Homo sapiens: one gene and its partner. The protein of the gene in region 1 interacts with the protein of each later gene in a pairwise test. Each region holds a gene or a part of one and is shown on either strand. Other genes may lie near its edges.

Region 1 (3,997 bases):
GAAAAACGACTAAGGTTGGCTTAAAGCTGTGGTGTGACCAGGAGTACAATCTACTCCCAGCGTATGAAACAGTTATTTCTTCTTCTTTCTTTTGGGGAGGGGCCAGATCAGGTGACCAGAACTATCTAAAGCCTGCAGGTCTTAGAAAACATGTTTTGGCTGTGCTTCACATTTTACTTTTTGTTTTTTGAGATGAAGTCTTGCTCTGTCACCCAGGCTGGAGTGCAGTGGCGCTCCACCGTTCATAGCAACCTCCACCGTTCACAGCAACCTCTGTCTCCTGGGTTCAAGGGATCTTCCCCCACCTCAGCCCCCAAAATAGCTACAGGCATGTGCCACCATGGCAGGCTAATTGTTCTATTTTTTTCTTAGAGATGGGGTCTCACTATATTGCTCAGGCTGGTCTCAAACTCCTGACCTCAAGCAATCCTTCTGCCTCGGCCTCCCAAAGTGCTGGGATTACAGGAATGAGCTGCCACGCCCAGCCACATTTTACTTTTTAAATGAAAATGAAAAGCCTAACAGGAATATTGACTCAGCAAGTTTTTATTATGCACCTGTGGGTTTGTGACGATGCCAAGGGATCAGAGGAACAAAGAGAGAGGATGTTGCTCAGATGGGGGTCTCAACCTCCAGAGCAAGGTGGACACAAAGCTCCAGCCAGCTGCCCAGCCCCTGGGGTGGGAGGGAAGGATCGAGGGGTAGCTGTTGTCAGATAAGGCCAAAGGTATCAGTGGCCAAAAGGGAGACAAAGATCTCCTGGGTGCAGCCTCCTCCACCACTGTGGTGAAGGGTGTTGGGCTGGAGGGTTGGCCGACCTCTCCTGAGAGCACGTTCCCCCTGCTGCTCCTGCTGCATGGCATCAACCTGGGTTTCAGTTACATTACCCAGGAGGATTTCCAAATCCAGAGGCAATGTGGCCTTCCATTTCCTGAGGTGCCTTGGTTGGCTCTGGATCAGTGGTGGGGACTCAAGAGACAGCCTCCCTGTGGCTTCCAGCCCCTCACATTCCCTTTGTCGCTTTCTCCTTCATGATGTGGTTTTACACAGAAAAACACTCTGGTAAGTAGAACAGTGTTCTTCTCTTGAGTCAGACGTCTGAAGCAGGAAGGTGAATAACCTTCCCAAGACCTTAGAGCTACAGAGAGAATCCTCAGCACAGGTAGGAGCACACAGGTAGGTGGGGTAAACGTGTACAGAGAGCCTGGCTTCTACTTGGAATTTTCCCCTCCCTTGGCCTTAAAAATCGGATTTCTCCCTTTTCCAGCTATGTTGATACAAGAGACAAACTATTTAGAAAGTAAAAGCCTCAACCGTTTATTTTGTGTTCAAAGTATAACCAAATGATTTTATTGCATTTACTGCTCCTGGGCATGCAGATGCATCTACACAGAAACAGCAGTTGTGGTTATAAAATCTTTTAACGAGTTTGGGGCAGAGGCTTTTTAATTATTTTTGAGACAGAGTCTCATTCTGTCACCTAGCTTGTGCAGTGGCATGATCTCGGCTTACTGCAACTTCTGCCTCCCAGACTCAAGCAATCCTCCCACCTCAGCCTCCAGAGTAGCTGGGACCGCAAACGTCAACACCACACCCAGCTAATTTTTTGCATTTTTGGTACAGACGGGGTTTTGCCATGTGGCCCAGGCTGGTGTCACTGAGCTAGGCAATCCACCCACCTTGGTTTCCCAAAGTGCTAGGATTACAGGTGTGAGCCACTGCACCCAGCCCAGAGTTTTCCTGATGTGAAAATTACGTGAGTGACAAGGAGCACCAGGAGCCTTGCCTGACTTACTGTCTGTTGGTAGGATGTGACATATGAATAATACAAAATACCCGTCTGGTTTGACTTGCAGATTAAATCACTGCTAGACTACAGCCTTGATGCCCTCTCTTGCTGACCCTAGCCAACATAACCAGTCTTCCAGGAACAATACCATGTTTTAAATTGCTTGAGGTTTCACTACCTGCTGTCACTCTCAGTCCGGAATCCCAGCAGGAGACACAGCTCCAGCTGGCCTGCCCAGCCCCCATCAGAAGGCAGGGAGGAAGGGGAATTTGTCAGCGTTTACGGCTATTGAGTATGATTCTTCCATGCAGAGGACACCTGCCCTAAATGCTGAAACTTGGGTCTGAACCCTGCCTTTGATGGAATTGTGAGCAAGCTCACTCAAGTTTGTATTGACTCATCTGTAAATTAGGAATGATATAGCATACCTCACGTTTATCTGGAGTCATGGGCTGAATGCTGTCCCTTTCAAATTCCGATGTTGAAGTCCCAACCTCTAGTACCTCAGAATGTGACCTTATTGGTAAACGGTTGCTGCGGATACAGATGAGGTTATACTGGAGTCGGTGGGATGGGCTCTAATCCGATATGACTGGTGTCCTTAAACAAAGGGAGGTTTGGAGACAGACACGCACACAGCAAGAGTGCCATGTGGAGATGAAGGCAGAGACTGGGTGACGCTTCCACACACCAAGGAATGGCAACTGCCAGCAAAGGCATGAAGCCGCTTCTCCCTCACAGCTCTCGGAAGGCACCAACTCTGAGGACACCCTGATCTTGGACGTGCACCTCCCAGAACTGTCAGGGAATACACTCCTGTTGTTCTAAGCCAGCCAGTGTTTGGACACACCAGCACTCCAAGCTAATGTATCTATCAAGTGTGTTGTCAGGCAAGGTTCTGTTCTGGAGCTTGGCTCACCCAGACAGGAGAACCCCTCACTGGGGGCAGAGCTCCACATTCCTAGACAGGACAGATTGGAAGAAGGGACTTAAGTGCCTTTTAAACGATGACAACTCCGCTTCCAACCCACAAGCATTTACCAAGGATCTTTGGGGTATAAAGACATTATGGGGTAGGTGTGCAACACAAATTAAAATGTAAGCTTTGTTTTTGGTGAGCTCCAGATCCCTAGTGATTGGCCCCCAGGAAAATCAACAGGTATGACGACTGTTTCCAAACCTCAAGAAGGAGCTCTGCAGACCCCTGCCACAGAGGCCAGCCCAAAAGGGCTGCCTGATCATCTTGGATCTGCGGGGTGCTCCTGCCTACCTGATGGCCACGAATCTGGGGCTCAGACATGACATGTCTGGCTCAGTGTGCCTGGCCCTGCTCCCCACTGAGCCCATCAGTCCCACCCTGCCTTCTTCTTTCCTCTAGTCCAACATCCGCCAGCAGCTTCTCAGTGGAAGTGCAGGCATCCTGGAGCTTCAGGAGCAGATCCTAGCGTTCAGACAGGGAAGGAGGGGAGGGAGTATACTGAGGTTTGGCTGGTGACCAGGGTGCCGCCCTGACGGGGGATAGCCCAGTTTTACTCCCCGAGCTTGGGGAGCATGGGCCAAGGGTCTCTAAGACGCAGAACACCTGGCATGTCCAACCTGGTGATGGCACATCCCCCCCGTTTTTTGGCACAGCAGAAACAGAACACTCACTTGGCCACTCTTTCATTACCTGGGGGAGGGAGAGTGCTCCCATGGCACCACCCGAACGCTCACTACCTGAGAGCAAGGACAGGAGGGAGGTGTGCTCTCTATCCTGGGGAAGGTATGTCCTGGGTGGGGGCGCTGATCAGTACCAAGGTGAGGGGGCAGCACCAGCCAGGGTGAGGCCGCCCCAGGCGGAGAGGCTCAGTAGGAGTTCAGAGCCTGCTTGGAACGGCGCTTCATGTGCAGGCGCTCGTGGCGGAGGAGGTCATAGTTCTGCGTGAAGCTCTTGACGCAGTACCGGCACTGGAAGGGCCGGGCTTTGTCCTTCAGGTGAAAGTGGCTGCGGTGCCGAGCCAGGTGGTCGTGCCGCTGGAAGGCCTTCCCACACTCACAGCACTGGAAGCTCAGTTTGGCCTTGCCGTTTTCCAGCGGCTCTTTGGGACCCTTGTCCGCGTCCTCGGATGCCGCCTGCTCTCTCTTCTCCACCGGCTGGAGTCTGTCCGGCTGCAGGTGTATCCGCCGGTGGGAGAGCAGGTGGGAGTTCAGGCGGAAGCTCTTCCCGCA
Region 2 (4,051 bases), on another chromosome or scaffold:
TTACCCCCAGGAGTCCCATCACGATGCTGAGCGAGGGCAGGGGCATAAGGATTTCCCACCAGAACTAATTTCTCCCAGTCTTCAGTTAAACATGTTACCTCTCTTGGATACTCCAGTAGGTTCTTGTATAATCTTGTACAAGATACTCTTGGGAGTAAAAGTATGCTTAGTCAGCAAGCCCAGCCTAAATTCTTCTCTTGTTCTTCTTTTGTAGGGAGACTGTAGCTGCTAATTCCAGCTTCTCCCAGAGCTTTGCAGTAACCCCAATCCTGGCTGCCAGCTGCCAGAAACGGGGCCTGGCACTGGATGGCAAACTTAAGCATGAAGATACCAACCTGGCCTCTAGCACAATGTAAGCTCAAATATAACTCTCAGCCTCCATTTCCTACCCCTCAACCATTCCACATGCTACATTTACAGCTCTGAGGTTTCATGTTCAGTAAAGCCTACCTGTTTTTTAAAGTGTCTCTAGGGCAGTGTTCAGAGACTCCTCCAGGCCTAAAGGCCTGCAGCAAGCTCAATAATGCCTGTGGGACCAACGGCAGGCTTAGGTCAGCGGCAGAAAAAAAGGAAAACATGGAGAGGAAAACAATCCTTATGTTGTATAAGATTTCACAGTTCACAAAGGTCCGACATATGTACTATGCTATCTTTGTGAGAATCCCACTAAAGTAGCCTGGACAGGTGTTCTTATTCCCTTTTACACTTAAGGACCCTGAGGCTCAGAGAGAAGAAGGAACTCACTTAAAGTGGCATAGCTGATAAGTGGTAGATGTAGACAGGATTATATCACATGTCATCTGGCTCTGAATACTGTGATCTCTACAGAAGCTACTCTCTAGAAAAAATAAAGATGGAGTAGAAGACTAGGAGATGAGAAATGGAGGAAAAGGAGGACAAAAAAGGAAAATGATGCAACAGGAATTAATAGAATTCTAGGAAGTCATTCACTTGGTCCTGTGCCTTCGGAGGCCCTAGTGTTAGATGTGTCTTCCACCAAAAACCACCTGCCACCATCTGTCAAGTGTAATCCCTCCATCTCTCCATACGTCTTTTCAATCAAGTAGCTATAGACTGTTATTGCTAGAAATACCCTTAGAAATCATCCAAACTGCATTATTTTATATGTAAGAGATCAGCAGCCCAGAGCAATGAAGAGATTTTCTCAAGCTCATGCAGCTTTCGCTGTCTTATTTTTCAATCAGTGGGTTTTTTACTGAACCCCTATTACATGCTCTTTCCTATGCTAAGCAATGTGGAGAATATAAAGAAGTTTAAGACAGTCTCTGCCTTCAGTCAATTTATGGCCTAGATGAGGAACGAAGAGAGATGCAAATACAACCCAACAGTTAAATGTTAGTACACGTGGTTCAGAGTAAATCGCAACAAAGTTAAAAGAAGCCAGGAGAGCTGGTGAGGGCTTCCTGGAGGAGGTAGAATGAGCTAGATCTTGAAGAATGTGAAGGATCTGGATACCAACAGAGGAAAAAAAGGAGCACTGTAGACTAGGGACACAGCATGGGCAAAGGCTAGAAGGTGGGAATCCACATGGCATGTTCTGATCACGGAGAGAAGATGGGTCTGCTTAGGTTGTATCCCAGGAGTTAGGGGAGAAAAGGTTAGAGAGGCTAGATAGGGCAAGGTTGTTAGGGGTCTTGAAAGTCAGGCAGAGTAGTTGTTATATTCAAAAGGTAGGCTCTTGAGCAGAGAGTGACATGGTAAAAGTGAATGTCAGGAAGAGAAATGTGGTCTCAACGGGTAGGAAAGGTTAGAGCCTGGGAGATATTCTGGGATAAGACTAAACATAATAGGGTGTGGTGATAGGAATGCATGAGAAGAAACTGGGGACAGAATGAATTACTCTTCATGCCCCAAACACCCTAAAACGAATACTACAACCTCCAGTATTAGACCGGGAATGGACAAAGAGCTGCTGGGGATCCTGGTGTCCTACAAAGTCAGAGTCAACCTGATGGTGTCCTGTGGTGGGTAAGTGAGGGTTCTGGGTCTGTCTGGGCAGGGGCTGAAGAGTCAAGGGCTTTTCGCCTCTGTTTTTCTCCCAGTTAGATTGACCCAATCAAACCATTCCCCACCCTTTCTCCCAGACCAGGTTCCCAAACCTGTGAGCTCAGTGAGCAAGTCACTTTCCCTTCCAGAAACCCATTCTGTGGCTGGCTCATTAGGTCTTATGATCCCTCATCCCCTTGTGAAACTAGGTTGCCCCTTCTCTATTTCCCGCTGCTAATTTTGGGTGTCATTCTACCCACAGCATCCTAGGAGACCTGACAGCCAGGTGAGAGACTGTGGGGTGGGGGAACTTGGGCAAGAAGAGGAGGACAAGGGGATAAGGAGAGCAAAATAATGATTGATTCTGGAGGGTCTGAGGGCATCCAAAGACTGGAAAACTAAGGGAGGGAGGTTCAGGGATTGGGCTTGTAGAGAGAGGAGATGTAACTCCACCTTGGGATCCTTGCAGCGATGTTGGTGTGGAGCTACCCTTGGTCCTGATCCATCCGAAGCCATCTCATGGTGAGTGACCAGGTGGAACTCACAGGGACGGCTGTCCTGAGGGCTGGGGTCCAAACCATTCTGATCTCATGAATTGGAGACTAGCAGTTTGCCTGGGGATGGAATAGCAATAGGTAGGCTGGGTGTCTAGGTATTCAGGGGAAGTGTGTGTGTCGTGTGTGCTGGAGCAAAGGATTGGGAAGTTGGGGGGGGGGGAAGTAAAGATACTTCTTCAGGGAACCGAAGAGCCTCTAATCAGCTTCAGCTCCATTTTTTCCCTCCGTCTCCATGCTTGCTACAGAGGCCGCTAGGTAATGGAATACAAGATTGGGAAGCCCCATTCCCCTCTTCCCATTTCCACCCTCCATGTTATGACGATAGAAATGTGAAAATGCTTCCTTGGGGTGCTTTCAATACATGTGCAGTGGAAACATATGGCTTAGCTTCGTGTCACAGTTCGGTGCTTTTCATATGCCCTCCTTTCCCTTTCTGCATCCCCCCGCCCTCCACCTTCTGCTCTTGTTGGAATCATCCTTCCCCCTCATCCCCTTCCCATTTTTCTTTTTCCTTTTCCCCCACCCGCTCGCCCTTACTTCTTTCGTCTTTCATTCTTTGATACCTTCCCTCCTTCCCATCCCTCATCCTTATGTCCCTTTCAGTGCTCCTGGGGGACTTTTGTGCTGGGAAATTTGGGCGGGAATGAAAGGAAACAAGCCAGAGTGGCTGATGGAAAAGTGGGGACACCAAGAGGGGGCCGAGGAGCCTACCTGGGAAGCAGGGAGGGGATCACTTTTCTGGGATCAGGAAAAAAGAGTGGACACGGAGGACACCCAGAAAGGGGTTCCTAACCTTCCATTCTCTTCTGCTGCTTCTGCAAGCTCTGAGGACATAGTCATCGAGGAGTTTACGCGGAAAGGCGAGGAGGAGAGCCAGAAGGCTGTGGAGGCTGAGGGAGATGAGGGGAGCTGAGCACCTCGCTCTGGTGCCCGTCTGTGTGGGAGCCCCCACTGTAACACTCTAATAAATCAGTTTGTTCAGATGTGCCTAGCGATCTCTTGCCTATTTCCTCTTCCTGGAGGGTCACGGAACTACTGAGAACAATCTTCCCCACCTCCACCCCTTTGCTGTGATTACACTACACTTAGCCCGTGCTTTTCCCCATACGCTGACCCCAACTTCCCTCTGACACGGTCAGTGGCCATCCCTCTCTCCACCCCATGACCCCACTCGAGTGGTCATAGGATTGCGCTGAACACCAGGCGCAGTGCAAGCTGCCAGGAGGGGGCCGAGGGGGCGTGGCCATGCCCAGGCCTGGGTGTGAAGCCAATGGCCGTCAGCCGACGTCAGTAGAGCATGGCGTGAAGTCCGGCGGCTCAGGCTGAGCGTTGGAAGCCATTTTGGCTGCAACCTACCTGAAGCGATGTCTGCCTTTGGTCACGACGAGGCCTGGATGGAGGCCGGAGGCTTTGGTCTGGAGGCTGCCGAAAGAACGGAATACCAGTCTCTGTGCAAATCTAAACTCTTATTCCTGGGAGAGCAGAGC

Evidence for each region. Proteins that work in one complex are often made in the same cells at the same time.
Region 2: the proteins of ZNF496 (region 1) and ARR3 interact in binary tests that used the Homo sapiens proteins (3 or more experiments, as listed by UniProt).

What each region holds. Positions count from the first base shown.
Region 1 is NC_000001.11:247,296,885-247,300,881, forward strand, and holds the end of ZNF496 (zinc finger protein 496), read right to left. Parts: coding exon 3,635-3,997; 3' UTR 531-3,634; downstream 1-530. UniProt on the Homo sapiens protein: DNA-binding transcription factor that can both act as an activator and a repressor.
Region 2 is NC_000023.11:70,278,290-70,282,340, forward strand, and holds the end of ARR3 (arrestin-C), read left to right. Parts: intron 1-214; coding exon 215-352; intron 353-1,905; coding exon 1,906-1,989; intron 1,990-2,269; coding exon 2,270-2,293; intron 2,294-2,476; coding exon 2,477-2,529; intron 2,530-2,809; coding exon 2,810-2,819; intron 2,820-3,386; coding exon 3,387-3,477; 3' UTR 3,478-3,551; downstream 3,552-4,051. Other genes in the region: RAB41 (ras-related protein Rab-41), read left to right, coding at 3,929-4,051. UniProt on the Homo sapiens protein: May play a role in an as yet undefined retina-specific signal transduction. Could bind to photoactivated-phosphorylated red/green opsins.